Linked DNA regions of Homo sapiens: regions 1 and 2 are each linked to region 3. The links come from fine-mapping of genetic effects on gene expression. A gene starts in region 3. Each other region holds a variant in brackets. All regions are shown on one strand. Distances are between the middles of the regions.

The links. PIP is the estimated chance that this variant, and not a neighbour inherited with it, causes the effect.
Region 1: its variant is the best candidate, but not a certain one, in a credible set for the expression of SCCPDH in whole blood (TOPMed, PIP 0.61).
Region 2: its variant is the best candidate, but not a certain one, in a credible set for the expression of SCCPDH in whole blood (TOPMed, PIP 0.73).

Annotation. Positions count from the first base shown.
Region 1 is chr1:246,950,424-246,960,866 of GRCh38, reverse strand. The region is part of intron 6 of ZNF670-ZNF695 (ZNF670-ZNF695 readthrough (NMD candidate)); the gene reads left to right. It also overlaps a transcript of ZNF695 not described here. Among named protein-coding and RNA genes, the nearest start is that of AHCTF1, 24 kb to the right of the region's middle. The variant C/T (reference allele first, on the strand shown) is at 5,490.
Region 2 is chr1:246,688,355-246,698,186 of GRCh38, reverse strand. It overlaps LOC102724382 (a long non-coding RNA gene), which reads right to left. Exons shown (of 3, transcript XR_949364.3): 2 at 7,973-8,034; 3 at 5,658-6,719. Among named protein-coding and RNA genes, the nearest start is that of SCCPDH, 31 kb to the left of the region's middle. RefSeq lists an enhancer at 7,833-8,353. The variant C/T (reference allele first, on the strand shown) is at 3,854.
Region 3 is chr1:246,719,340-246,729,782 of GRCh38, reverse strand. SCCPDH (saccharopine dehydrogenase (putative)) reads right to left here and starts at 5,374. Exons shown (of 12, transcript NM_016002.3): 1 at 5,171-5,374; 2 at 2,779-2,891. The coding sequence starts at 5,360. RefSeq lists silencers at 90-290, 5,021-5,230, 5,331-5,400, 5,441-5,570 and an enhancer at 5,781-5,940.

The DNA.
Region 1 (10,443 bases), 230 kb before region 3:
AACCAGTCCAGGCTCAGGTGATCCTCCCACCTCAGACTCCCAAGTAGCTGGGACTGCAGGTGAGCACCACCATGCCCAGCTAATTTTTATATTTTTCTAGAGTTTTGCCATGTTGCCCAGGCTGCTCGCGAACTCCTGGGCTCAAGGGATCCACCGGCCTCAGCCTCCCAAAGTGCTGGGATTACAGGTGTGAGCCACCATGCCTGGCCTGTACCATTCTTTGAAGGATAGATAGCTATCTTGAACTATGGAGAAATGATCTGAATTTGTAGACAGAAATGAAGAAAAGAACTTGTCTTGCATGGCCAAGTAGGTCTTGTATAACCTTATCACTCTGAATGGAAACAAATGGTTCTCTGGGGCATATATATAGAGAGAGAACATAGGTAGTATTCTATACTGCTACACAATACCAACTGTTTTTACTTTTACATATATGACAAACAGCATTGGAGAAACTAGCAAACCACTCCAAAAGAAACCACACTCTATATAATATAAATTTTTCCCCAAACTGCAATCATATCAGCCTGCTTGAGTACAGCAAAATGCATCTAGGTTACTGGGAAATCTTAGGGTGGCAGTGTTGTTCACTCTAAATATATTAGTGTTCCAGATAAAACTGTGGTTCCCTTTTTGCTGATATGTTTACAATTTCTTTGAATAGAAAAGAGGAAGTATTACAATATGAGAAAGTTTCCTTAAATAATGACGTGGCAAAATGTGTGAAATCTGAGAGGAAAAGCAAGCAGTTAAATTATTCATGAAGCTTCTCAACTGGGTTTTTCAATGAGATTGGTTTGTTTCAAATAATACATTGTGAAATATGTAATCTAACATACTTAGAGGAAATGAAGTTCAGTGAAATTGACTGTTGCATGAAGATAGCAGCTTACCAAAATACATAACCATAGTTATGAAAACTCATACATTGCTACGGAACTAATGGATCAGAAACACTGGAGAGTTTTTGCTTCTGAGGAACAGTCCACTTTCACCGCCTATCTTCAGAACCGCCACGGAGAGGGAGAACTAAGAACATCTAGCTGTTAATTTCCTGCATCATTGGTGCAGAATGTGGCACATTGTAAGAAAAAGTGACAAGCTCAATAGTCTAGGTTCTAAAAATATGCCCATTTTGGGCCAGGCACGGTGGCTCACACCTGTAATCCCAGCACTTTGGGAGGCTGAGGCTGGTGGATCACGAGGTCAGGAGTTCGAGACCAGCCTGGCCAAGATAGTGAAACCCCCATCTCTACTAAAAATACAAAAATTAGCCGGGTATGGTGGCGCTCGCCTGTAGTCCCAGCTACTTGGGAGGCTGAGGCAGGAGAATTGCTTGAACCCAGGAGGTGGAGGTTGCAGTGAGCCGAGACTGTGCCACTGCACTCCAGCCTGGGCAACAGAGTGAGACTCTGTCTCAAAACAAAAACAAAAAAAATGCCCATTTTGGGTTCTAGAATAAGCAGATAATGTGTTTTCAACATTTAAATGCTTCTTTCAGAAAAGAGATTTTATATATATATATATATATATATATATATATATATATATATTTTTTTTTTTTTTTTTTTTTTTTTTTTTGAGACAGGGTCTCACTCTGTCATCCAGGCTGGAGTGAGTCCTGTGGTGAGATCATACCTCACTGCAGTTTCAAACTCCTGGGCTCAAGCAATCCTCCTGCCTCAGTCTCCCAAGTAGCTGGGACTACAGGTACATGCCCGGCTAATTTTTAAATTTTGTTGTAGAGACAGGGTCTTGCTATGTTGCCCAGGCTTGTCTGAAACTCCTGGCCTCAAGCAATCCCACCTTGGCCTCCCAAAGTGCTGGGATTACAGGTGTGAGCCAACGCACCTGGCCAAGACACAGTATCTGATTCGCTGACATCTGAGGAGAGTAAGGATAATTTACAGTATCTGATTCATTGACATCTGAGGAGATTAGTGATAATTTACAAGACACTTCTTCTTCCCCGTGAGTGGCACTCGCTTTCTTAAACCAATAGCAAACACACTTTTCACCTTAGAGGACTTCACTGTCCCCGCGTGTTACTATGGCTGCATAACAAATCACCCGAAAATGGGGTGGCTTAAAGTACAACAATCATGCGTTACATCGTGTATTATCTCGCACCGTTTCCATGGTTAGAAATTCACACCAGGCGTAGAATGGATGGCTGGTTTCTGACCCACATTGTCAGGGATATCAGCTGGAAGACTCAAAGGCTGGCGCCTGGACTCTGAGGGATCATTCACTCAGGATCATGACAGCAGCTGATGCTTGCTCATGGCTGGGGACTAGCTGAGGATGTCAGCCAGAATTCCTCACTAGACCTGTCTGTGGCCTGAGTCTCCTTACTATGTGATGGCTGAGTTCTAAGGGTAAGGATCCCAAGAGAGAAGGAAAAATAAATGGAGGTTTCTTCATTTTTATGACCTAGCCTTCAAAGTCACATATTTTGTGACTTTTTGCCAAACTTCAATACTGGGGCAATCATAAGACAAGTCCCGGCTGGGTGCAGTGGCTCACGCCTGTAATCCCAGCACTTTGGGAGGCCGAGGAGGGCAGATCACGAGGTCAGGAGATCAAGAACATCCTGGCTAACATGGTGAAACCCTGTCTCTACTAAAAATACAAAAAATTAGCCGGGCGTGGTGGTGTGCACCTGTAGTCCCAGGTACTCGGGAGGCTGAGGCAGGAGAATGGCGTGAACCCGGGAGGCGGAGCTTGCAGTGAGCCGAGATCGCGCCACTGCACTCCAGCCTGGGCGACAGAGCAAGACTCTGTCTCAAAAAAAAAACAAAAACAAAAACAAAACAAAACAAAACAAAAACCAAGTCCCTGCCTAGATTCAAAGAGAAGAAACATAGATCCAACGTCTCTGTGGGAGAAGTGTCAGACTCATCATAGAAAAGGCATGTAGGATGCATGTAGTAATAAATATACAGGTGCAACCATCTTTAGAAAATACAAGGCTGGGTGTGGTGGCTCACGTCTGTAGGACCAGGAGTTTGGGACCAGCCTGGGCAACATGGCAAAACCTGTCTCCACTAAAAATACAAAAAATTAGCCAGGCTTGGTGGTGTGCACCTGTAGTCCCAGCTACTGGGGAGGCTAATGTAGGAGTCACCTGAGCCCAGGAGCTCGAGGCTGCAGTGAGGTAAGATCATGCCACTGCACTCCAGCCTGGGCAAGCTGAGTGACACCCTATCTCAAAAAAAAACCCAATCTGCCACAATGTGTTTCTAGAAAGGTATTGAAGGTTTATCTCATATTGCTACATAATTTGAATTTTAAAATATTTTATTATAAATATCTGCTCACGTGGAAAATTTAGAAAAAGATGAAAAGAATAGTCCAATATAGTCCTACCACCCAAATTAACCATAATTAGAGAAGATTAAAGTTTTCTTATAGTCAGACATACGATTTTCTGCTGTGGTTTCTTCGTTGCTTGTGTTCCCCAATTCTTTTTTTTTTTTTTTAGACGGAGTTTCGCTGTGTTGCCCAGACTGGAGTGCAGGAGCCTGATCTCAGCTCACTGCAACCTCCAACTCCCTAGTTCAAGCGATTCTCCTGCCTCAGCCTCCCGAGTAGCTGGGACTACAGGAGTGCACCACCACGCCCAGCTAATTTTTTGTATTTATTAGTAAAGACGGGGTTTCACCATGTTGGCCAGGATGGTCTCCATCTCTTGACCTCATGATCTGCCGGCCTCGGTCTCCCAAAGTGTTGGGATTACAGGCATGAGCCACCGCACTCGGCCTGTTTCCCAATTTTTAATTAAAAACTTGAAAGAGTAGTACAAAGAATACCATTTATTCTCCATATAGATGCAGATAATACTAACATTTTATTAATTCAATATTTGCTTTATCTCTTTTTTTCTTACTGAACCAATAGAAAGTTCATTTCACATATCATGATACCACCTGTAAATATTACAGTCACAACATGCATCTCCTAAGCATAAGGACGTTATACTGAGTAATCACAACAACGTTATCATCTCAAGAAATAGGCCCAGCGCAGTGGCTCATGCCTGTAATCCTAGCACTTTAGGAGGCCAAGGTGGGAGGATCACTTGAGGTCAGGAGTTCAAGACTAGCTTGGGCAACACAGCAAGACCACATCTCTACAAAAATAAAAATAAATAATAACAATAATAGTTTCATGATATCTAATAACATAGAATGGGCAATTCAATATTAACATACCCCCAATTATCCCATGATCTTTTTTTTATTTTTGGAGGCAGAGTCTCACTCTGTCCCCCAGGCTGGAGTGCAGCGGCACAATCTCGGCTCACTGCAACCTCTGCCTCCCGGGTTCAAGTGATTCTCCTACTTCAGCCTCCTGAGTAGCTGGGATTATAGGTGACTGCCACCAGGCCCGGCTAATTTTTGTATTTTTTGTAGAGACGGGGTTTCACCATGTTGGCCAGGCTGGTCTCAAACTCCTGACCTCAAGTGATCTGCCTGCCTCAGCCTCCCAGAGTGCTGGGATTACAGGCATGAGCCACCGCGCCCGGCCCCCATGACCATCTTTTATAGATTTTTTTAAAAATAATGATCCAATCGGCCGGGCACAGTAGCTCATGCTTGTAATCCCAGCACTTTGGGAGGCCGAGGCTGGTCGATCACGAGGTCAGGAGTTCAAGACCAGCCTGGCCAACTTGGTGAAACCCCATCTCTACTAAAAATGCAAAAAAATTAGCCGGGACTGGTGGCCGAAGCCTGTAATCTCAGCTACTTGGGAGGCTGAGGCAGAGAACTGCTTGAACCCAGGAGGTGGAGGTTGCAGTGAGCCGAGATCATGCCACTGTACTCTAGCCTGGGTTACAGAGCAAGACTCTGTCTTAAAAAAAAAAAAAAAAAAAAATCCAATCCAAACTAATATCTGGCATGTGGGTATCTTTGGTTAATGTCCTCATCTGGCTCCCGTGCCTCCGTACCTAAATCTGTCAAGTAAGGGGTTAGTGATGAGACCGTTGTCTACCCAGGGAGTTCTTGTGAGCATCATATTCACTTTCTTCAGCTGGGACTCACTGAGCACCTTCTGTGTGCTGGACATTGTCCAGAAGACAGTAGTACTCTTAGGAGCCTACATTCTAGAGAGATGGTAGAAAAGAACGGACTTTGAAAAGTTAACATCGCTAGGTAAATATAGGGCGTTATCATTTTAGGCTAAAGGATTGAAACAAATCTTGGGGAAAAAGCCTCCTTTGTACAAAAGAAAATGGATTTAGATTAAAATTAATTAGTTCTGTTCTGTGTAGGTGTTTGTTTACAAGCTCAATGAAGAGATCAGCAATACTGAGTAGAATGATAATTTTAGAGTTTAGAGTATATGAGAACACTGCGGGAGAGCTTCTACTCTTAATTAAATAAAATTACTTATACACATTTTGTCACATAATACAGTTAAGCACTGCATAACAGTTTCAGTCAATGATGGACCTCATAGACGACAGTGATCCCCTAAGGTTA[C/T]AATAGAGCTGAAAAATTTCTATCACAAATACTTACCATTGTGTGATGATTTCCTTACACTATTCAGTACAGTAACATGCTGTACAGGTTTGTAGCCTAGGAGCAATAGGCCTGTATTGGTCTATTTTCATACTGCTATGAAGAAATACCCAAGACTGGGTAATTTTTAAAGAAAAAGAGGTTTAATGGATCCAGTTTCACATGGCTGGGGAGGCCTCACAATCGTGGTGGAAGGTGAAGGAGGAGCAAAGGCACATCTTCATGGTGGCAGGCAAGAAAGCACGTGCAGACTTATTCACTGTCGTGAGAACTGTATGGGAAAAACTCCCCCTATGATTCAATTACCTCCCACCAGGTCCCTCCCATGACACGTGGGGATTATGGGAGCTACAATTCAAGATGAGATTTGGATGAGATTTGGGTGGGGACACAGCCAAACCATATCAAGGCCTTACCTGATAGCCTAGGTGTATAGTAGGCTATACTATATAGATTTGTGTAAGTACACTCAATGATTTTCTCAGAATGTATCCTGAGATGACTGTATGACTGTATTAAATTTTTATTTTCTCAGTTATTATTTTCCTAAAAACTTAGTGAGCAAGAAAACCCTATAAGAATATAGAGATAGCAAGTCAGAGTTTCGAGCTGGAAGTGGCCTGAGAGATCGTCTAATCCAGATTCCACATTTTTACAGATGATCTGATCAGTGATCATTTTACAGGAATTTGCATGAAACTTAAGGCTCTAGACACACATGGTTTCCATATATAGAAGCCTGATTCCAAATCCTGTACATTAGACAAGACAATCAGAATCTTGTGTTATCCTGATTTTTGTTCTTCATCTTCCAGTTACATGGGTTTTCTTGTGAGAGCTGAAATAATAGTATCACCTTTGGGGAACGGTGACTGCCAGTTTTGGATCAATCTTAGGCCACTGGAAGGTTGGTGGATCTTCTCCAGCAATTCGGGCTGAACTCAAGCAAAGCTGAGTCTAAGATCAGTTTGGACCCTTTCCCCTGGAACAGCTGGCAGGCATTGCCTGTTCCTGTCCTTGGCTTTCAACTGCTGGACAACATGTTTGGGGAGTGTGTGCCAATATTTGGGTTTTTATTCTTCTGGTTTAACAGTTGTTAGTGCCGTTGGCTCTCAGGGAAATTCAGGACAATCTCCTTCTGTAGCTTTAAGGTTGGCCTGATTGGCAAGACAGTTGAGGACAAACTGAAGTCATTCGTTCATTCATGTGCCAGTGTCCCTGTGCTCAGAAACAGTTGTTTTAAGGATGGCAAAATGGAAGACTTGAGGATTTATGATAATACTGAATGGCTATCCTCTAGGGCACTGTTGAGTCTTAGCAGAGTCCCAAGCTCTACACTTACCCTGAGTTTTTAGGCTTCTTTGTTTTTCGGGTTTCTTTTTTTTTTTTTTTTTGCTTGTTTGTTTGTTTGTTTTGAGACAGTCTCACTCTGTCGCCCAGGCTGGAGTGCAGTGGCGTGATCTCAGCTCACTGCAACCTTCATCTCCTGGGTTCAAGTGATTCTCCTGCCTCAGCCTCCTGAGTAGCTGGGATTACAGGTGCCTGCCACTATGCCCAGCTAATTTTTGTATTTTTAGTAGTAATTTTGTATTTTTACCACGTTGGTCAGGCTGGTTTTGAACTCCTGACCTCAGGTGACCCACCTACCTTGTCCTCTCAAAGTGCTGGGATACAGGCGTGAGCCACTACGCAGGGCCCATTTCTTTGTTGTTTTTTTGTTTGTTTTTGAGATGGAGTCTTGCTCTGTCACCCAGAGCTAGAGTGCAGTGGTGCGATCTTGGCTCACTGCAACCTCTGCCTCCCGGGTTCAAACGATTCTCCTGCCTCAGCCTCCCGAGTAGCTGGGACTACAGGCGTGTGCCACCACGCCTGGCTAATTTTTTATATTTTTTTTACTAGATGCGGGGTATCACCATGTTAGCCAGGATGGTCTAGGTCGCCTAACCTCGTGATCCGCCCGCCTCGGCCTCCTAAAGTGCTGGGATTACAGGCGTGGCCCACTTTGTTTTTATTACTGAGGTTATTCTGTAGGTTTTCTGAAAATAAGCAATCAGCATCTAGGTCCAAATTTACAATTTGTAATGACATTCCAAAATTCATCAATGAATAAAACAATAGCTAGGAATGTCATGTTAATTATTTAAATACGTTGGAATCTGCCAATGTTCCCTTAAGCCTCCCTCCAAAGGAGGCCTGAAGTTGAGCGTATGACAAGAAAATATCTAGTAGAGTAGAACAAACTTAGTATTACACCGAAAGCCTAGGGAAGTATTACAGTCCAGCCATTGGGAACCTCAGAGGATTGTGGGGTGGACATGCCCTTCTAAATTGTGGCTCAAGTAGGGTCACATCCTTTCCTAGGTTTCCTTCATTGTGGCTGAGACTGGCAATAATTTCTTTTTTAAAACAAAATTTATACAGATAAGGCCTCACTATGTTGCCCAGGCTGGTCTTGAACTCTTGAACTCCTGGGCTTAAGTGATCCTCCTGCCTCAGCCTCCCAAAGTGCTGGGATTACAGATGTGAGCCACTGCACCTGGCCAAAAATCAATAGTTTCTGAAAAGAAGTTGCTGAATACTGTTGAGGAATAAAAGATGAATTAAATATGGAGAATAAAGGAAGCATAACACCAGCATGCTGGAATGCACCTGTAGTCCCAGCTACCCAGGAGGCTGAGGAGGGAGGATCACTTGAGCCCAGGAGTTCAAGCTTGCAGTAAGCTGTGATTGCACCACTGTACTCCAGCCTGGGCAACAGAGTGAGACCCTGCCTCAAAAAAAAAAAAAAAGAAGAAGAAGAAGCATAACATTATTTATTCTAGTCATTCATTCAACAAATATTCATTGAATACCTAATATGTGCTGGAGATATGAACTGTGAACAAAACTTTATAGAAAGCTTACAGTTTTTAATATCCTTTTTCTGATTAAAGAGGAAAACAACTTGCAAACTGCAAGGAGACACAAAATAAATAAAATGTTTAAATCACCTGTGCAAAATACAAAGGACACTAAAGAAAATTTGAAATTATCATCTGTGGTCTCTGTTTTCATAGAGCTTCCACTCTGGTGGTAGAAGTGGTACTTGGGGGCTGGACACAGTGGCTCACGCCTATAATCCCAGCACTTTGGGAGGCCGAGGCAGGCAGATCACTTGAGGCTAGGAGTTCGAGACCAGCCTGGGCAACAAGGCAAAATCCTGTCTCTACTAAAAATACAAAAATTAGCCAGATGTGGTAACATACGACTGTAGTCCCAGCTACTCAGGAGGCTGAGGTGGGAGAATCGCCTGAGCCTGGGAGGTCAAAGCTGCCATGAGCCAAGATCACACCACTGCCCTCCAGCATGTGCGACAGAGCGAGACCCTGTCTCAAAAATATATAGTGGTACTTGGGAAGCCAGACAGTAAACAAAGATGAACTGGTGCTGTGAAGAAAAAGCAAGGTAAGAGGACAAAGAGCGGGGGGAGAAGGTGCACTCTAGGTAGGGTGGTCAGGGAAACCTCTTTGACAAAGCCTATGGGGCTCATTCTATCCCTTTCTAGTCCCAAAGGGCTGGCCCAGCTGTGCCAGCACCTGGCTTACCAGGTCTCAGCAGTTCCCACAGGAAGGATCTTCCACACAGAAGCTGGCTTTCCTGACAATTTGGATCGTTGTAGCTAAGGACCAGGGCCTCTGTGGTTGACCTGAGACTTGCCTCTTTGTTCTAGTTTCTGGTCTAGGAGCGTGTAATAGTCTCCTAAGGCTGCTATAACAAAACACCACAAATGGTGTGCCTTCAAACATCGGAAATGTATTATCTCAGTTCTGGAGGCTCAAAGTCTGAAATCAAGGTGTCAGCAGGGCCTGACTTCTGCCAAGGCCTCTAGGGAAGAATCCTTCCTTGCCTCGCCCAGCTTCTGGTAGCCCCAGACATTCCTTGGCTTGTGGCAACATCACTCCAACCTCCACCACCTTCGACGTGGCCATCTCCCCTCCGTGTCTGTTTTCCCTTCTGATTGTATGAGGACCCACCCTATTCCAGCATGACGACTTAATTAATTGCACTTGCAGTGCCTCTATTTCCGAAAAAGGTCACATTCTGAGATACTGGGGGTAGGACTTCAGCATACCTTTTTGGGGAACACAGTTCAGCGCATAACAGAGACCAAGAGTCCAGGCCCAAGGGCTAGGGTGATTTTTATAATGATGACATAATGACACATACTGAGGGTGTCTCGGTGCCTCCATTTCAGACCAACTATATGACAACACTTAAACTGAGTAAAAAGCACAATATTCCTACAATATGAATTGCACTCATTCTGTAACAAAAGGGACATGAAGTCATACCTTTGTTTTATTACTAACTGTATATTGTTTGATAGTAAACAAGTTGACATGACTTTGGAGGAACAGGGTATACCTGTTTGATATTTTTCAATTTGGAGTGGTCATAAGAATAGCTACTGTTTTACAAGTTTACTCATTTAATTTTCACAGTCATCCTAGGAGGATGAAACTACTGTCATTTTGCATTTTACAAATGAAGAAACCGAGACAGAGTGGTCAAGTACCTTGTCCAAAGCTGCTCAACTAGGAAGAGACAGAGCCAGGAGAGCAATGAAATGTTAATAGCTTTACAAATCCCTGTAATTGTCATTTGTTTCTATATTGGGTGGATTTTTTTTTTTTTTTTTTTTTTTTTTTGAAACGGAGTTTCGCTCTGTTGCCCTGGCTGGAGTGCAGTGACGAAATCTCTACTCACTGCAACCTCTGCCTCCCGGGTTCAAGAAATTCTCCTGCCTCAGCCTCCCGAGTAGCTGGGAATACAGGAGCGTGCCACCACGCCCAGCTAATTTTTTATGTTTTTAGTAGAAATGAAATTTCACCGTGTTAGCCAGGCTGGTCTCAAACTCCTGACCTCAGGTGATCCG
Region 2 (9,832 bases), 31 kb after region 3:
CGTCTCAAAAAAAGGAAGAAAGAAAGAAATGTTTGCACCATCATCTAGCCCTTTGGGTAAGAATGAGTTCTGAACACCCAGCAGGAGCATCATGTAGGTAGGCACAGTGACGAGTGGGACTGCCATCCTCCTTGGCTCACACAATTCTACCAGACCGGTTTACTGCAACGTCCTCTGTCTCCCCAGGAATGCACGCTAGAATCAAGGCAGGGAAACTGATGTTCAGTGGGAATATCTGGGTAAGCACTATCAAACACATTTACTAGCTCTCTTGAGACCAAAGCCATCCAAATTAGACTGCTGATATCTATTTGTTTACAGGAATTAAATAAGGATAAGAGAGCCAGGCATGGTGGCAGTGCCTGTGGTCCCAGGTACTCAGGAGGCTGAGGCGGGAGGATCACATAGGCCAGGAGCTCGAGGCTGCAGTGATTGTACCAGCGCACTGCAGCCTGGGGGACAGAGCGAGACCTCATCTCTCTCTCTCTTTTTTTTTTTTTTTTCAGATGGAGTCTCTCTGTCACCCAGGTTGGAGTGCAGTGGCGTGATCTCGGTTCACTGCAACCTCTGCCTCCTGGGTTCAAGCGATTCTCCTGCCTTAGCCTCCCGAGTAGTTGGGACTACAGGTGTGCACCACCACGCCCGGCTAATTTTTGTATTTTTAGTAGAAATGGGGTTTCACCATACTGGCCAGGCTGGTCTCCAACTCCTGACCTTGTGATCCGTCCACCTCAGCCTCCCAAAGTGCTGGGATTACAGGCATGAGCCATGGCGCCCGGCCGACCTCATCTCTTAAAAAAAAAAAAAAAAGAAAGATTTAAACCAACAACAAAAAACCCCTAACAAACATGTGATAGTTGGATTGCGAATACCGATTGGATTAGGGTGTGGCTGAGAAAACCTTGACCCAGCAGGGGCAGAAAGAAGGCACTGCCTTCGGGGCTGGATCAGAGAGGTGCTTTCCCGAGCGGCTTCCTGAGCTGCTCAGCGTTCTGGAGAGAAGGTGGCTTATTTCTGCCCCTTCCCCTGCGGCCGCTGGGCCACGCTCTGGAGGCCGGAGCCCTCCGTGTGCGCCTCTGCTCTGACTCCCGAGGGATGTCGGGCAGCTGAAGCCAGGCAGGGCTCCCGGGTGTGTGACTGTGGTTGTGAGAGTGTCCTCATGCCACATGACAGCGTGGGAAAGGGGCTTGTCTGTTCCTGTAAGGGCACCAAGGCTTCCTGGTTGTATCATTTCCCTTTGGATTTTTGACAGGATCCTTCCCATTCCCAGTGGATTCGGGAAAATCCTTTCGGGCCACTGGTCAGCATTCTTTTCCTCCAGCGAGCTGGGGCACCTCCATAAAGCTGACAGGCAAGGCGCAGGGCCCTCCTCACCACACACACACAGACACACACACACACACACACACACACACACACACGCCTACACACACACACACACACACACACACACACACACACACACACGCCTTTCAGTCACCGCAGGGCAGGGCCCCTGCGCCCAGCATGATGCTGTTCCTTTTGGAAACCACGAGGTGGCGCTGCTGAGACAAGGTCAAAGGTGAGGCTCGTTCCCCTGCGCTGCGAGCAAGAGGCGGCGCCCCTGGTCTGAGTCCTCAGCAGGATCCTGTCCTGGCTGCCGGTGCTGTGGCTTATTCATTGATTTTCCCATCACTTCAGCAAACATTGACTGAGTGCTACCAGGAGCCAAGAAATGGACAATGATCCATGTTCATTGCTATAGTACCTGAACACTTAAAAACACGCTCCCGGGCGGGTGACGCACGCCTGTAATCCCAGCTACTGAGACCTACTGAGGAGGCTGAGGCAGGAGAATCGCTTCAACCCGGGAGGTGGAGGCTGCAGTGAGCCGAGATCGCGCCACTGCACTCCAGCCTGGGCGACAGAGCGAGACTCTATCTCAAAGCAAAACAAAATAAGACAAAAACAAAACCAAGAAAACACGTTTTCAGGAGCTCCCAGGTCCCCAAGTGGAGCTGGAGAGGCTGCGACAGCCCAGGTCTTGAGGAACAGGTGGGTTTTGTAGGTGAGCTTGAATATAGGGGGCGCGGGTGCAGAGGGAGCCTGGCAGGTGTGGGGCAGCCAAGCCAAGGCAAATGGGTGTGACTGACAGTGAGGAGGCTAGACTAGAAAAAGCCTCTCTGGAGGCCTCAGTTTCTTTATCTGTCAAATGAGCTCCAGAGACTCAATGCAGCACTGCCAGGTCCCTCGCCTGGTAGAAGGAAGGGTACCCATGACAGGCTGTAAGAGGCATCCTCGATCATGAGATCATGAGATGGACAGGCCTGCACCCAAACCCCAGCTCAGCCCGCTACTATTTCCGTGCCTCTGACAAGTCCCTTACCTCGCTGACCTCCTGCTTCCTCTTGTAGAAAATGAGATTGATGGGCTGGGCATGGTGGCTTATGTCTGTCATCCCAGCACTTTGAGACACTGAGGCAGGAGAATCCCTCAAGGCCAGGAGTCTGAGACCAGCTTGGGCAATACAGTGAGACCCCATCTCTATGAAAAAATTTTGAAAAATTAGCCGGGCGTGGTGGTGCACACCTGTGGTCCCAAGTACTCGGGAGGCTGAGGTGGGAGGATCGCTTAAGCCCAGGAGTTCACAGCTGCAGTAAGCTATGATTGCACCACTGCACTCCAGTCTGGGCAACAGAGAAAGACCCTGTCTCAAAAAAACAAAACAAAACAAAACAACAACAACAAAAAGAAAGAAAATAAAACAAAATTGATGATACTTGCTTTGATTTGGGAGAATGTATTCTGGCAGGGTTTCAGAGCCAGGAGGCTGTGCTCAAGTTCCGACTCAGCCACTTAGTAATTGTGTGTCCTTGGGAAGTCACTGAACCTCGCTGAGTCAGAGTTTCTTCATGCCTTACATGACTACACCCAGTCTACCTTATAGAATTAATGAAAACTTAAATAAGGTGGTGTTTCCAATCCAGGAGCTAGAGCATAACGGGTGCTGAGTTATTACTTTTCCCTCTTAACTCATGTAGCACTTGCTACCAGAAGTAGAGTTCAGCAATGCGTCCTGCCTTGATTTGCTGATTAATGTTATGTTTGTTGGCCTTGTCTCCGCAACAAGATTTTAAACTTCATAAGGTCATGGACCATGTTGCCGAGCACCATGCCCAGCACACAGTAAGCATGGAATATACAGTCTCCAGCCAAGCACCATGCCCAGCACATGGTAAGCACGGAATATACAGTCTCCAGCCGAGCACCAAGGGCAGTTCACTGATATCGGGGGAACCCACCCACAATATATCAATGTAGGTTCTTTCTATTTTCTATAAGTGTCAGACTGCTGAGAAATAAAGAGAAAGAGTACAAAGAGAGGAATTTTATAGCTGGGCCGCTGGGGGTGATATCACATATCACCGTGATGCCCACCTGAGCCTCAAACCAGCAAGTTTTTTATTAAGGGTTTCAAAAGGGGAAGGGGTGTAAGAACAGAGAGTAGGTACAAAGATCACATGCTTCAAAGGGCAAAAAGCAGAACAAAGATCACATGCTTCTGAGGGAACAGGACAAAAGGCAAAGCAGAACTACTGATAAGGGTCCAACAAAGATCCCAAGGCAAAGGGCAAAAGCAGAACTACTGTTAAGGGTCTATATTCAGCGATGCATGTATTGTCTTGATAAACATCTTAAACAACAGAAAACAGGGTTCGAGAGCAGAGAACCAGTCCGACCACAAATTTACCAGGGCGGAGTTTTTCCCCACCCTAATAAGCCTGAGGGTACTGCAGGAGACCAGGGTATATATCTCAGTCCTTTCCTCAACCGCATAAGGCAGACATTCCCAGAGCAGCCGTTTATAGACCTC[C/T]CCCCAGGAATGCGTTCCTTTCCCAGGGTATTAATGTTAACATTCTTTGCTAGGAAAAGAATTTAGTGATATCTCTCCTACTTGCAAGAAGAAAAATATGGCTCTTTTTTGCCCGACACTGCAGGCAGTCAGACCTTATGATTGTCTTCCCTTGTTCCCTAAAAATCACTGTTATTCTGTTCTTTTTCAAGGTGCACTGATTTCATATTTGTTCAAACACATGTTTTACAATCAATTTGTACAGTTAACACAGTTATCACAGTGGTCCTGTGGTGATGTACATCCTCAGCTTACAAAGATAATAGGATTAAGAGATTAAAGTAAAGGCAGGCATAAGAAATTATAAAAGTATTATTTGGGAACTGATAAATGTCCATGAAATCTTCACAATTCATGTTCCTCTGCTGCGGCTCCAGCCGGTCCCTCCGTTCGGAGTCCCGGACTTCCCACAACAACTCAGACTATGGCACTTTCTAGTTTTCTCTTAGAGACAGGGTCTTGCTCTGTCACTCACGCTGGAGTGCAGTGGTATGATCACAGCTCACTGAAGCCTTGACCTCCCAGGCTCAAGTGATACTTCCACCTCAACCTCCCAAGTAGCTAGGACTACGGGTGTGCACCATGGCACCTGGCTAATTTTTTAATTTTTGGTAGGGGCAGGGTCTTGCTATATTGCCCAGACTTGTCTCCAATTCCTGGCCTCAAGTGATCCTTTCACCTCGGCCTCCCAAAGTGCTGGGATTACAGGTGTGAGTCACCATGGGCAATAGCATTTTCACTGATCCAAACAGTATTTGAGGAGATGCTATATTCAGGCTTATACATTCTAGAACTTTTCCTTTTCAAGATTTAAACTTCCTGTATAACAATGTCCTATATCTTGTGGCTGCTAATAACTGGAATAATAATAGCTAACTTTATTGAATGTTTACTGTGTGCTTTATACACATGATCTCATTTAATCTTCATAACAACCTGACGAGGTGATTTATTATTATTCCCACTTTACAGATGAGAAAACTGAGGCTCAGGAAAGTTAAGTAACAAGTGAAGTTTCCACAGCTAGTACTGTAAGTGGGAGAACTGAGATTTAAGTCCAGGTCTTTCTGATACTGGAGTTCTTGCCTGTGAGCACTCTGCAATACTGCCTCCAAAGTAATGACATGCATGCAAGCACCAGGCACATAATAGGTACTCAATAAAAGTTGGCTCTCTTCCTTCAATCAAGAAGTGTATCAAAGGCTGGGCAAGGTGGCTCACACCTGTAATCTAACACTTTGGAAGGCCAAGGAGGAAGGATTGTTTGAGCCCAGGAGTCTGAAACCAGCTGGGCAACATAGTGAGACCTCATCTCTACAAAATATAGAAAAAATTAGCCAAGTGTTGGTGGCACACACCTGTAATCCCAGCTACTTGGGAGGCTGAGGTAGGAGGATCACCTGAGCCCAGGAGGCCGAGGTTGCAGTGAGCTGTGTTTGCACCATTGTACTCCATCCTGAGTGACAGAGTGAGACCCTGAAGCAAGCAAGCAAGCAAACAAGCAAGCAAGAAAGAGAAGGAAGGAAGGGAGGGAGGGAGGGAGGGAAGGAGGGAGGAAGGGAGGGAGGGAGGGAGGGAGTAAGGGAGGGAGGGAGGGAGGGAGGGAGTAAGGGAGGGAGGGAGGGAGGAAGGGAGGGAGGGAGGGAGGGAGGGAGGAAGGAAGGGAGGGAGGGAGGGAAGGAGGAAGGAAGGGAGGGAGGGAGGAAGGGAGGGAGGGAGGGAGGGAGGAAGGGAGGGAGGGAAAAGAAGGGAGTCTAGGATGAAGTGGGCACCTAAGCAGGTGAATAGGATAGGTAAAATCTCATCCCTGCCCTCAGGCGGTAGACACTCTCCAGTCATAAGCTCTAATGTGCTGTAGAAAAGCCTCAGGTTCTCAGGGGTTTTCCAGCTGAGCATCTGGAAGGCCGCAGTGCAGTTCTGTGTCCAAGCACTGCAGAGCCTCATGCAACAGTCTCATCACTCGGTGCGACCCTCCTGGAAGGTCTGTTCCCAGGGGAGGCTACAGCGAGGCAAGGGGAATGCAAGAGTTCCTAGCCAGGCTAGGACCTCAACTTGGCATTCGCGAGAGACAGATTCTCTGTGTCCCCCGTCCCAGCCCTGAAACCCACAGGAGGTAGAGGAGCAAGCTCTCAGTGAAGGCCTCGTCTCTGGAATCTCTTCTTTGGGGAAAAAACGACATGAGCCTGCCACAGAGCCTGTTTATGAAACAAATCAGAGAGCTATTTTGAGCAATTACCCCCAGCAATCACGACAGCATAACTTGTGTAGTCGGAACTAGGTCACCAAGTAATCTCACCAGCGCCAGAAGAAATTCATCTGGGAAGGACACTAGCTTGGGGAGATGAGATAGGATAGGCCCTGGCCTCTTGTCAAGATATCCAGATTTCAAGGGACAACTGAAGACACAACAGAGACAGGGGCTCACTATGCATTTCCTTTTAAAATTGGCAATAATCTGGCCACAGAATCAAGGTAAAGTTACTGAATCCTCTGGTTCTTGGTTCGGCATGATTGTAGCTGCTGGTGGTTGTCATGGAAACCAGCAGAGGCGTTAGATCTTAGCTCTGACACTCAGGAGAAGCTGAACTTATTCTGTTATGAGCTTTTTTTTTCTCTCTTTTTTTCTTTTTTTTTTTTTTAAATAGAAATTGTCTTGAACCTGGATAAACAGGCCTCAAAGTTTTTCCTCCGCCTGGCTTGGATATGTTTCTGTTTCTGCTTTCTGGCTACACAGAATCTAACGACGCATCAAGAATTGGCCCTGGTGCTCTGTAAGATGTTTTGTTGGGTCTCTTTTCAGTTGCCAGAGACAGAGACCTAAATCGACCTAGGTTAGGTAAGAAAAAATAAAAAGATTCATTATTGAGTAAATTATCAATGTGATATTGAATACCCTTTTTTTACTTTTTAGTTTTTTCATTTAATTCTAATTTTAAAATTTATTTTTTCATTTTACTTTTTTTTCCCCCACAATATAGGTGGGGAAAGACCGAAACTGGTCTGAAAATATTTGGAAACACAAAGACGGCCTTGGGCTGGGCGTGGTGGCTCATGCCTGTAATTCCAGCACTTTGGGAGGCTGAGGCAGGAGGATCACTTGAGCCCAGGAGTTGGAGACCAGCCTGGGTAACAAAGGGAGACTCCTTCTCCACCAAAAATTAAAAAATAAGCCAGGTGCGGTGGTACATGCCTATAGTCCCAGCTACTCAGGAGGCTGAGGTGGGAGGATCACTTGAGTCCAGGAAGTTGAGGTTGCAGTAAACTATGATCACACCACTGCACTCCAGTCTGAGTGACAGTGAGACCCCCATCTCTAAAAAAATTTAAAAAATTAGCTAGGCATGGTGGCACATGCCTGTAGTCCCAGCTACTTGGGAGGCTGAGGCAGGAGGATCACTTGACCCAGGAGGTTGAGGCTGCAGTGAGCTGTGATTGTGCCACTGCACTCCAGCTTGGGTGACAGAGGCAGATCCTGTCTCATTAAAAGGGTGGGAGATGACATTAGGAGTCTCTCTCTGTTTTGCCATCTCTCATCTTCGAGTCCATCACACTCTTGCTCTGTCGCCCAGGCTGGAGTGCCACGGCATGCTCACTGCAACCTCCGCCTCTCGGGCTCAAGCCATCCGTCCACCTCAACCTCCTGAGAAGCTGGGACTACAGGCACGCACTACCACGCTTGGCTAATTTTTCATATATTTTGTAGAGACAGGACTTCACCATGTTGCCCAGGGTGGTCTCAAATACCTGGGCTCAAGCAATCTGCCCGCCTCAGCCTCCCAAAGTGCTAGGATTATAGGCATGAGCCACGGTGCCCAGCCCCATCAGACTCTAAGCCTCCCCCTGGGCAAGGGATGGAGCAGGCAGTTCTGAAGTCACATCCTCACACTCTTTCTGCTTTAGTTTAAGGGAGAGAAGTTGGCTTCGAGGATGAAAAAAAATCCCAGGTGGGTTCTGATTGCCTCAGCTGGGAACAGGTGCCTGCGCCAGGGCCGGCTGCCACGTGTGAGGTGGGACCCGTGTCCTCCGCCCTCTGAGACAGCCAGGTGTTGGAAAGGATCTAAAACACGAATTCCATCTCACGTGTGTATATAGACGGCAGCTCCATTTGTTGTTCCTTCTAGGGGGTCCATACTTGTATCAGTCTGAGTCCAGTCCGGAGAGAGAAATCACGTAGTAATTTGAACAGAGAAAATTCAATATAAAGAATTATTTACTAGAGCAAGGGATTACAGCCATGAGGGGCTGGCTAGTAACAAAGAAAGAAAACTCCAGTGAACCAGCCCCAGGACTGAGAGAGCCCCCACGCCGGCCCCAGGCGGAGATCCAGACCTGTGCAGCTGTGACTCTGAATGGCAGAGAAGTTGTTGTGGTGCCCTGTGGCAAATCCTTCTGGAAGTCGGCCCTCCGAGGTGCCAGGTGTCTTGATTGCTAGAGGCATGCTGCTATAAAAACGGCACCAGGGCTGGCGGGCGCCGGGCTGGGCGGGGAGGTTCCGTCTCCTGGGTGCTGCTGGCTGCAGTCACTGTAGGAGCGGGGCACTGGGGGAACCACCCAGTGAGCACCCTGGAACCCAGAGGCAAGTCAACCTCTTCTCCTTCTCCCGTGTCTCTCTATCACCCTCTACTGGCAAGATTTCAGTGCTAGCTAGCCCGGGAAAAAAATATTTAAAGGTCCAGATCCATTTTCACAGAGTAGTCCAAAAGGGGGAATTTGGAGCTGAGAGTCCAAGATGGAAAAACTGGTCTGGGCGTGGCAGCTCACGCCTGTAATCCCAGCACTTTGGGAGGCCATGCAGGAGAATCACTTGCACCCAGGAGTTAGAGACCAGCCTGGGCAACATAGTGAGATGTCTCTATGAAAAATAAAAATTAAGAAAATTGCCAGTCCTGGTGGTACATGCCTGTAGTCCCAGCTACTTGAGAGGCTGAGGCAAGAGGACAGCTTCAGCCCAGGAGATGGAGGCTGCAGTGAGCTATGGTAGTGCCACTGCACGCCAGGGCCTGGGCAACAGAGCAAGACATTGTTGCAAAAAAAATGTATATATATATATATGATGCATAATACCTCAGATTACTCTCCGTTGGGGAAATATTCAGATTTTAGAAGCCATAAAGCAATGAAATAGACATTTAGCATCAACTATGTGTTATGTTTAGATTTGAATCTAACAGAATTAGGCGCTGTAGATCCTTGTTTAGCAGTGTGATATGATGAGAGCAAGTCTACCACATGAAGCTTCCTTTTAGATGCTTAAAATCACAGGGTAGGAAGGCTTGCTTCCTCTCCAGTTATTAAAGAAATTAAATTTAAAATTATATCATGTACCATTTTACACCTACCGGCATAAATGGAGGTGATAATGAACCCAGTGCTGGTCAAGTATTGGATACAGACGTGTAAACATCACTGGTGTCACCAGTTTATTACAGGGGTTCCGTCTTTTTGAAGGAAAATAATAAAACAAGAGCCTTAAAACAATCTTACCCCTTATTCAGTAATCCAAAAACCTCTGAATGTATTTCTAAGTAAAAAGTTCAAGGTCAGGTGCAGTGGCTCACGCCTGTAATCCCAGCAATTGGAGAGGCGGAGGTGGAAGGGTCGCTTGAGCCCAGGAGTTTGAGATCAGCCTGAGCAACAACATAGGGAGACCCTGTCTCTACAAAAATTTTAAAAAATTAGCCAGACGTGGGGGCGTGCAGCTATGGTCCCAGCTACTTGGTAGGCTGAGGTGGGAGAATCACCTGAGTCCAAGAGTTTTAGGCTGCAGTGAGCTATGATCACACCACTGCCCTCCAACCTGGGCAACAGAACAAGACTCTGTGTCTAAAATCATAATAATAATAATAGTTCAAAATAAAGGTCTATCTGTACAATAATATTTACAGTAGTATTCATTTATTATAGAGAGAAAGGTAGAAAACCCAAATGTCTAATGAATAA
Region 3 (10,443 bases):
AGATTTCATGGACATTTATCACTTCCCCAATCAATACTGTTATAATTTCCTATGCCTGTCTTTAATCTCTTAATCCTGTCATCTTTGTAAGCTGAGGATGTATGTTGCCTCAGGACCCTGTGATGATTGAGTTATCCGTACAAACTGTAAAACATGTGTCTTTGAACAATATGAAATCTGGGCATCCTAAAAAAGGAAGAGGATAACAGCAATTTTCAGGGAACAAGGGAGATAACCATAATGTCTGACTGCCTGCGCGACTGGGCAGAAGAGAGTCATATTTCTCTTCTTGCAGAAAGCGAATAGGAGAAATATCACTGAATTCTTTTCCCAGCAAGGAATAACCCTGGGAAAGGAATGCATTCCCAGGGGGAGGTCTCTAAAATGGCCGCTCTGGGAGTGTCTGTCTTATGCAGTTGAAGATAAGGGATGAAATACACCCTGGTCTCCTGCAGCACCCTCAGGCTTGCTAGGATTAGGAAATTCCAGTCTGGCAAATTCTAGTCAAACTGGTTGTCTGCTCTCGTACCCTGTTTCCTGTTAAGATGTTTATCAATGACAGTGCGTGCCCAGCGGGACATGGAACCTCATCAGTAATTCTAATTTTGCCCTGGCCTTGTGATCTTGCTCTGCCATTTGCATTGTGATACCGTATTGCCTTTTGAAGCATGTGATCTCTGTGACCCACTCCCTATTTGTACACTCCCTCCCCTTTTGAAATCCCTAATAAAAACTTGCTGGTTTTGCAGCTCAAGGGGCACCACGGAACCTGTCAACAAGTGATGTCACCCCCAGAGGCCCAGCTGTAAAATTTCTCTTTGTACTCTTTCTCTTTATTTCTCAGACTGGCTGACACTTAGGGAAAATAGAAAAGAACCTATGTTGAAATACTGGGGGCTGGTTCCCCCGATAATAAAGTCTTTGAAAACTGTGCCCAATAGGAAGAGGACCAGTTTTTCCTTGTAACAAGAGATATGGCAGACTACAGGGTATGATGCAGATTGGCAGACAGGTAGGTAGGTAGATAGATCTGGTGGTAGGAAGATGAAGAAAGAAATTCTGTTATTAACCAGCTTCTATTTTCATAGTTAAAAAAAAAGAAAAATAAAATCAGATAAGAACAAGGAAAGAGAGACGGGATACTAAAAGTTCAAGGAAAACAAGGTTGTGAGCTGCTTCAGAGAGCAGGAGAGAGAATTCCTGAGGGAAATAGAGCAGAGCTGCCGGAGGTGCTAAGCACCACACAACGTTTGTAAACACATATTTGAAGTGTGACCAGTTAGCAGGGGGATACATTTTTCTCCAGCCACACTGTGTTACTCATGTTCAGGTGAAGAGCAGGCAGAGAATAACCAGGGCTGGGATTTTTCCAGAGTACTGAGGAGAAAAAGGCAAGGGAGATAGATGAGGGCGTCCATTATAGAGTGCAGCAGTGGACCTCATGGATGGAATCTAAGCTAGTTAAGAATGAGATGAATCTAAATCAACAACACTTCTATTTAATAGCAATTCAAAAACCCTTTTGCTCTCAATTAAAAATTATTAATATTTTAGATATTTAATTTTTAAACATCTTGCCAACTGTGATGGCTTCTTCAGATCACTAAATGTCACCAACATTCACCTTGTTACACAGGCCAAAAGTCTGATGGCCTGTGACTTGATGACTTTTTCACAGTACAACAGCAAAAGCCGTTCTCCTTTGAAAATATACTCTGGACCTAACTACTTCTCAGCACCACTACGACCCCAGGGCTTGTGCTTGCACCATTCCATTGCTCATCCTTTGTTATCTACTTTTCCACTCAGAAGCCAAAGAACTTCCAATTTAAATCAGCTGAAGCCCTTCCTTTCAACCATTCAACGCCTCTTGGTCACACCTGGAAAAAAAATCCACATCCTGGCCATGGCCCGTAAGATCCCACATGACCCAGCTCCCGGGTTGCTCTCTGATCCACTCTCCACCTCTCTGCCATGCCCAGCCACACTGGCCTCTGTCACACTCTTCAGTCTTGCCAAGCACACTGGCATCTCAGGACCTTTGTGCCTGCTGTCCCTGGAAAAGTCTCTCCTCAAAAGGTTCATGCAATTTGCTCTCATTTCATTCAGATCTTGGCTCAAATGTCAATTCCTCACAGAAACCTTCCCTGACCATCCATCTAAAAACACCAATATGCCAGGACCTTTTCTCCTTTCTTGGCTTCACTTTTCTTCAAAGCACTTTTCATTACCTCCTATTACAATCCTATTTTTCTGTCTTCCCCAAGAACGTAATGTCCACGAGGGATTTTCTGTTTTGTTCACCATTGTGTCCCAGGTGCCTACAATAGTGCATTTCACATGTGGTAAGCATCAATAAATATTTATTCAATAAATGAGTCGTTTTTTAGTCTTCTTTTTGTGCATTTAAAAAATATATTTACCCAGTAGTACAAGAATATAATTTATAAATAAAAAATATACTAGGGAGACACACTCAAACATTTTTTACCGAAGGGGTATATAGTAAAAAGGAAAGAAAATTCTGACAATCACAGATGTAACCAATCAACAAGCCAGCACACATGCCCTAAGGAGAACGTCATGGAGAGCCTGTCACTCACTCTCTCAGGAGACTTTGGTCATCTCCAGCTGCTCCTCGCAAGAAGAAAAAACTCCCCATATGGGGTTAAGGCCTTCAACCAACAATTCTGTCCTCTGTCCTTATGTTCCTCTGGAATATTTTGCTAGAAATGAATGGATTGTTTGTTCTGATACAAAGAAGGGTTGATTACTTACTGGTCCTACGCAATTGAGGACAACTGTTGCCTGTTTAGCCATTTCATCAAGCGAGGCTGGATTAGCAATATCACAGATGATGATTCCAACTTCAGATGACAGTGTTGGTCTTCCTAAAATAAGAAACAAATGAAGGAAAGTAAATCCCAGTAGAGGATTATATCTTCCTTATCTTCTTTTTACAGTAATCAGTGACAGCAAATTACTAAATACACTGATATGCTGAAAGCTAGCTCTCCTGCTTAGACAAAAGATAAAACTGTTTTTAATCAGGTAATACAAAAGGAAAAAATTATGAGGAAAACTGAGTTAACACTAAGAGTTACTAAAAAACTGACCTTTTAAAAAAAATCGAATCAAAGCGTTGTGTAAATAACAACCCTGTGTAACATGACAATTTCACAATCAAGTTTAAATGCTGAGCAGATAACTATCCAGACTTCCTCTCCAACAAGAAATTTATGTCATAAAATAGTTTCTTGGCCAGGGGCAGTGGCTCAGCACTTTGGAAGGTCAAGGTGCAAGGATCTCTTGACCTCAGGAGTTCCAGACCAGCTTGGGCAACATAGCAAGACCTTGTCTCTACTAAAAAAAAAAAAAAAATTATCTGACATGGTGGCATAGCCTGTAGTACCAGCTACTCAGGAGGCTGAGGCGGTAGAATCACTTAGACACAGAGGTCAAGGCTGCAGTGAGCTGTGATCACGCCACTGTACTCCAGCCTGGGTGGCAGAATGAGAACTTGTCTTTAAAAAAATAAAGTTTCTCATCAACCACTAAACAATTACTATGATCCAATTGTAGGTGATGGAGAGTTTCGGACTGACTGTTAACATCAAAACCATCAGGGCTGGGTGCAGTGGCTCACGCCTGTAATCCCAGCACTTTGGAAAGCCGAGAAGGGTGGATCACGAGGTCAGCAGATCGAGACCATCCTCACTAACACGGTGAAACCCCGTCTCTACTAAAAAAATTAGCAGGGCGTGGTGGCGGGCGCCTCTAGTCCCAGCTACTCAGGAGGCTGAGGCAGGAGAATGGCAAACAAACAAACAAAAAACAAAAAATTAGAACTCTGAGGTGAAAAGCACACGCTATATAAACACACACAGGCTCATAAGAAAATAATTGGAATTAACTGGCTCAACTAAGTGATGCAGGTTTCAATAGGTGAAGGTATATCCCCCCACAATGAAACTTGATTTGGGCATTATATATGATAAGTGACTAGGCTGTACCGGTACGATCTTGCTGAGCCGAAAAAAGAAATGGAAGCATATATTTTCATAGTAAAATTACTTCTGTTGGAAAAATAACGACCAAAAAGCTCTTTGGTCAGAATTACGTGTTGGTAGTGTCAGCACCAAAAGCTGTAGGAGAGTCCAGCCTACGTGGTGTCTTCTGTACATAACCACGAACAAAAGCACTCCGAGCAGGGCATTGTATGAAAGTAGATTAAACAGAAAGAATGTAGTATTTCCAGAACTCTAATGGGTGTCTGTATAAGGGAAATCTACGGGAGTTAATAGCCAAATTTAAAGGCTACGGAGTCGTAAGTCAGATGTCTCCCCAGCCATGAAGGCAGCAGGATCCGTGTGTCTGTCTCCTCTCTGTCCCATCCTGCACCCCAGACTCGGGACAGGTCTTAGCATGGACAACGTCACTCAATAAATATATGCTCCTTCAATGCTTAGAGAATCAATAAATATATGCTACCTGAATGCTTAGATTATCAATAAATATATGCTACCTGAATGCTTAGATTATCAATAAATACATGCTACCTGAATGCTTAGAGAATACGTAAGCGTCTAAACCAGAAATACACACTTTTTATTCTCTGAAGAGGAAGACTGCTGGAGTATTCTTACACACAAAACAAGAAACTAAAACAGAATAGCCACAAAGACACTGTCAGTACAACTCGTAAGCTTGCTCTCCCGTCCTCAAAACACGAGGCAAAGGGAGACTCCGATCTCCAAGAGACCAAAGCCCTCCTCTCCTCTCCGACCAAACATCTAGAAACCCGCAGATTCAACAGGTGCCCCCGCTGCGGGGCAGGATGAAGCAGAGAGAGGGACAACTCAAGTTCTTGACCATTTCGCCAGGGGAGCTCCCCAAACTGAGGCAGAAATGCAAAAAGCGGGAAAGAGGAGAAGGAAAGAAAAAAAAATGTGTGTGTATATTATACACGCACGCGCACACACACATATAGTTAAGGAGGTGGGACAAAGCTATGGCAGTATTTGAAACATCTCTCCCTCTCCTCTTCTTGTCCTCACGCAGGGCTCGGGGACACGTAGGGCGCATCCCTGCGGGAGAAACGCTCGTTTGGGGCGATGCGGGGTCCCCGGCCCAGCCGCCCGCGCAGCCCCGTCCCGCCCCGCCGCTGTACCCAGCTTCAGGGCCGCCTTCTCCAGCACCCGCTGCAGCTTCTCCCGGGAGCGGCCCGCCACGGCCCAGGGCAGGCGGGAGCTCCGCTCCGGGTCCACCTGCTCCCGGGCCACCTCCTCGGTCACGAACTGGCCGGTGAAGCCAGACGCGCCGAACACCACCAGGTGGAAAGGCCTCTGCTCGGTCGCCATGACGAGTCCACAGCGAGCCCAGGCCCCGGGGCGGGTGGAGTCCACGGCGCCTGCGCCTCAGGCAGCGACCCCAGTACCCGGCGCAGCAACGGCCGCCGTCGCCGCAGCCAGCGCGCCGGGCTCCCTTCACCCCGCGCGCGCCGCCGCGCCAGGGCCGCGCCCACGCCCACGCCGCCTCGCGCGGGAGCCGCGGGTGAGCGGCTTGCTTGGGAGGCTTCCGACGGGAGGTTTCCTAGGGCGGTGGCCCTGGGGGCGAGTCCGCTTCCAAGCCTGGCAGGCGCGGACGGCGGCCCCTAATTCCGTGCGGCGGTTTGTTCTGCAGGGCTCTGGCCGCCCCGGGCAGCGCATCTTCTAGCCCTGCTGGAAGCTGGAGGCGGCAGCCGGTTGTCCTTGTTGCACGTGGGGGTGGAGCAAAGAGTGCGAGAAAATCTGCGGATGGCCTCGGGGATGGCCCACCCCGAGAACCCTTGAGCTTGCTTGCTTTCTTCCTTTCTTTCTTCCCTTTTTTCCCTTTCTTTTCTCTTTTCTGTTTTTGAGATGGAGTCTCACTCTGTCGCCCAGGCTGCAGCGCAGTGGCGCGATCTCGATTTACTGCAACCTTCGCCTCCTGGGTTCAAGCGATTCTGCCTCAGCCTCCCGAGTAGCTGGGATTACAGGGGAGCGCCCCCACGCCCTGCTAATTTTTGTGTTTTTAGTAGAGATGGGTTTTCACCTTGTTGGCCAGGCTGGTCTCGAACTCCTGACCTCAGGTGATCCACCCACCTCGGCCTCCCAAAGGGTCGGGATTACACGCATGAGCCACTGCACCCAGCCCATTCCTGATTTTTAAAAACTCTCATTAAAATAGGAATAAATGAATGCTTTTAAAAATTTTGAAATATATGTCTTGCAAAAAAGGTACAGCCAATAACAAATATGTACCCTCAACACAGCTTAAGAAAAATATTCCAGATAGCGAGGCTTCCAGGTATTCATTCCTGAACACATTTCCTTTTGCGTCCCCAAGACGGCCACTTGCCTGAATTTAGTGTTTATTATTCCTATTCCTATCTTTCTGCTTGTTATATATGTATGTATTTATAAATATTATAGTACCGTTTTGCATATTTTGAATATTTTGTAAATGTCAATCCTGCAGCTTTCTTATTTGGTCATGATGTCGTGAACTTATTCCCAAATGATTCAGAATAAAAAAAAATGTCTGTGATACGTGTGTGGAGAGAGGGAGAGAGAGAGAAATACACCAAATTCTACAATGCTTTTGTACAATGTTGTATAGTGCTTTTGTGCAATATAATACAAAGAATGCTACAATAAAATTCTTGTACCTTTCTCCTAAAGCACCTGTGCGAAAGTGTATTGAATATGTGTCAGGAATGAAAATGGTTGGTGCTAGAATATCCATATTTGAGTTATCTCACTGCTCTTTAAAGCACATGCACTAATTTTCGCTCTCAGCGGGATACAAGAATCCTCTTGCTTTACGTGCTTGTCAGCACTTGGTATTCTCAGACTTCATGCTTGTCCATCTGGTGGGTGTAAAGTAGTAAGCATTCAAGTATTTATTAAACACTTAACTATATACTGGGCACTAGGAATAAAGTACTGGGGATATGGCAACAAATAAAGCCCCTGCCCTCAAGAAGTTTACATTCTAGTGGAGTAAACAGTCACTAAAAAATAATCTTACAGAGCCAGGTACAGTGGCATGCACTTTTAGTCCCAGCTACTTGGGAGGCTGAGGCAGGAGGATTGCTTGAACCTAGGAGTTGGAGGTTATAGTGAGCTACACTCCAGCCTGGGTGACAAAGTGAGATATTGTCTCTAAAAAGAAAATAAAAACAAAAGAAAACAAAAAACCCTAAAAAAACAGAATATATATATATATATATATATATATATATATATATATATATATATTTTGTTTTTTGGGAAGCATGCTTGCTATGGTTTGGATGTTTGGCCCCCCCAAATCACATGTTGAAATGTAATCCCCAGCATTGGAGGTGGGGCCTGGTGGGAGATGTTTGGGTCATGGGGGTGGATCCCTCATGAATGGCTTGGTGCCATCCCCAGGATAATGAGTATGTTCTCTCTGCATAAGTTCATACAAGAGCTGGTAGTTGAAAGAGCACTCATCCTTCTCTCTCTTGGTCTCTCTCTCACCATGTGATACATTGGCTCCATTTCACCTTCTGCCACGATTGGAAGCTTCCTGAGGCCTCACCAGAAGCAGATGCTGGCACTACACTTGATGTACTTCCTGCAGAACCATGAGCCAAAATATAAACTTTTTTCTTTATAAATTAACCAGCCTCAGGCATTCCTTTAAAGCAACGCAAAAATGGACTAACATAATGGTCATTGCAGCATTGCTTTGTAATAACAAAAAGTAGAAATAACTGAAATGTCCTTTATCAGAGGAATTATTAAATAAATTATGGTGTCCTATTCATTCAATAGGAACTGTGCAGCTATAAAGAATGAAGAATGACTATTCAGGTGGTTCTAGGTAAAAAACACACAACAACAACAAAAACAAAAGAATGAAGTAGGCTGGGCACAGTGGCTCACGCCTGTAATCCCAGCAGTTTGGGAAGCCAAGGCAGGAGGATCACTTGAGTCCAGAAGTTTGAGACCAGCCTAGGCAATGTAGCAAGACCCCATTTCTTAAAAAAAAAAAAAAAAAAAAAAAAAATTTTTTTTTTTAATTAGCTGGGTGTGGTGATGTGCATCTGTAGTCCTAGCTACCTGGGAGGCTGAGGTGGGAAGATTGCTTGAGCCCAGGAGTTCGAGGTTACAGTAAATCATGATCACACTACTGCACTGCAGCCTGGGCAACAGAGCAAGGCTATGTTTCTAAAAAAAAAAAAACAAAACAAAACTGTGTATAGTGACACGGAAAATCTTCCAAATTTCCTAACATTACAAGAGTATATTTAAGACAAAACAATGTATGTATATGCACACAAAATGTTAAGAATACATGATAAATCTTTTTTTTATTATACTTTAAGTTTTAGGGTACATGTGCACAACGTGCAGGTTAGTTACATATGTATACATGTGCCATGTTGGTGTGCTGCACCCATTAACTCATCATTTAACATTAGGTATATCTCCTAATGCTATCCCTCCCCCTTCCTCCCACCCCACAACAGGCCCCGGTGTATGATGTTCCCCTTCCTGTGTCCATGTGTTCTCATTGTTCAATTCCCACCTATGAGTGAGAACACGTGGTGTTTGGTTTTTTGTCCTTGTGATAGTTTGCTGAGAATGATGGTTTCCAGTTTCATCCGTGTCCCTACAAAGCACATGAACTCATCATCTTTTTATGGCTGCACAGTATTCCATGGTGTATATATGCCACATTTTCTTAATCCAGTCTAACATTGTTGGACATTTGGCTTGGTTCCAAGAATTGCTATTGTGAATAGTATTGGGGAACCTGCCCCGATATTCACGTAGGTTCTTTTCTATTTTCCCTAAGTGTCGGCCAGCTTGAGAAATAAAGGGACAGAGTACAAAAGAGAGAAATTTTAAAGCCAGGCGTCTGGGGGAGACATCACATGTCAGTAGGTTCTGTGATGCCCCACAAGCCGCAAAAACAAGCAAGTTTTTATTAGGGATTTTCAAAAGGGGAGGGAGTGTGTGAATAGGTGTGGGTCACAGACATCAAGTACTTTACAAGGTAATAGAACATCACAAGGCAAATGGAGGCAGGGCGAGATCACAGGACCACAGGACCGAGGCAAAATTAAAATTGCTAATGAAGTTTCGGGCACCACTGTCATTGATAACATCTTATCAGGAGACAGGGTTTTGAGATCAACTGGTCTGACCAAAATTTATTAGGCGGGAATTTCCTCTTCCTAATAAGCCTTGGAGCCCTATGGGAGACTAGGGTCTATTTCATCCCCTGCAGTCTCAACCATAAAAGACAGGTGCACCTGGGGGGGGGCTGTTTATAGGCCTATACCTCCAGGTGCGTATTCTCTTTCCCAGGGATGTTCCTTGCTGAGAAAAAGAATTCAGTGTTATTTCTCCCATTTGCTTTTGAAAGAAGAGAAATATGGCTCTGTTCTGCCCGGCTCACCGGCACTCAGAATTTAAGGTTATCTCTCTTATTCCCTGAACAATTGCTGTTATCCTGTTGTTTTTTCAAGGTGTCCACATTTCATATTGCTCAAACACACATGCTGTACAATTTGTGCAGTTAATGCAATTATTACAGGGTCCTGAGGTGACATACATCCTCCTCAGCTGACAGGATTAAGAGATTAAAGTAAAGACAGGCATAGGAAATCACAAGGGTATTGACTGGGGAAGTGATAAGTGTCCATGAAATCTTCACAACTTATGTTTAGAGATTGCAGTAAAGATAGGCATAAGAAATTATAAAAGTATTAATTCAGGGAACTAATAAATGTCCATGAAATCTTCACAATCCACGTTCTTCTGCCATGGCTTCAGCCAGTCCCTCCATTTAGGGTCCCTGACTTCCCGCAACAGAATAGTGCCACAATAAACATACGTGTGCATGTGTCTTTATAGCAGCATGATTTATAATCCTTTGGGTATATACCCAGTAATGGGATGGCTGGGTCAAATGGTATTTCTAGTTCTAGATCCCTGAGGAATGGCCACACTGACTTCCACAATGGTTGAACTAGTTTACAGTCCCACCAACAGTGTAAAAGTGTTCCTATTTCTCCACATCCTCTCCAGCACCTGTTGTTTCCTGACTTTTTAATGATTGCCATTCTAACTGGTGTGAGATGGTATCTCATTGTGGTTTTGATTTGCATTTCTCTGATGGCCAGTGATGATGAGCATTTTTTCATGTGTTTTTTGGCTGCATAAATGTCTTCTTTTGAGATGTGTCTGTTCATGTCCTTCGCCCACTTTTTGATAGGGTTGTTTGTTTTTTTCTTGTAAATTTGTTTGAGTTCATTGTAGATTCTGGTTATTAGCCCTTTGTCAGATGAGTAGGTTGCGAAAATTTTCTCCCATTTTGTAGGTTGCCTGTTCACTCTGATGGTAGTTTCTTTTGCTGTGCAGAAGCTCTTTAGTTTAATTAGAT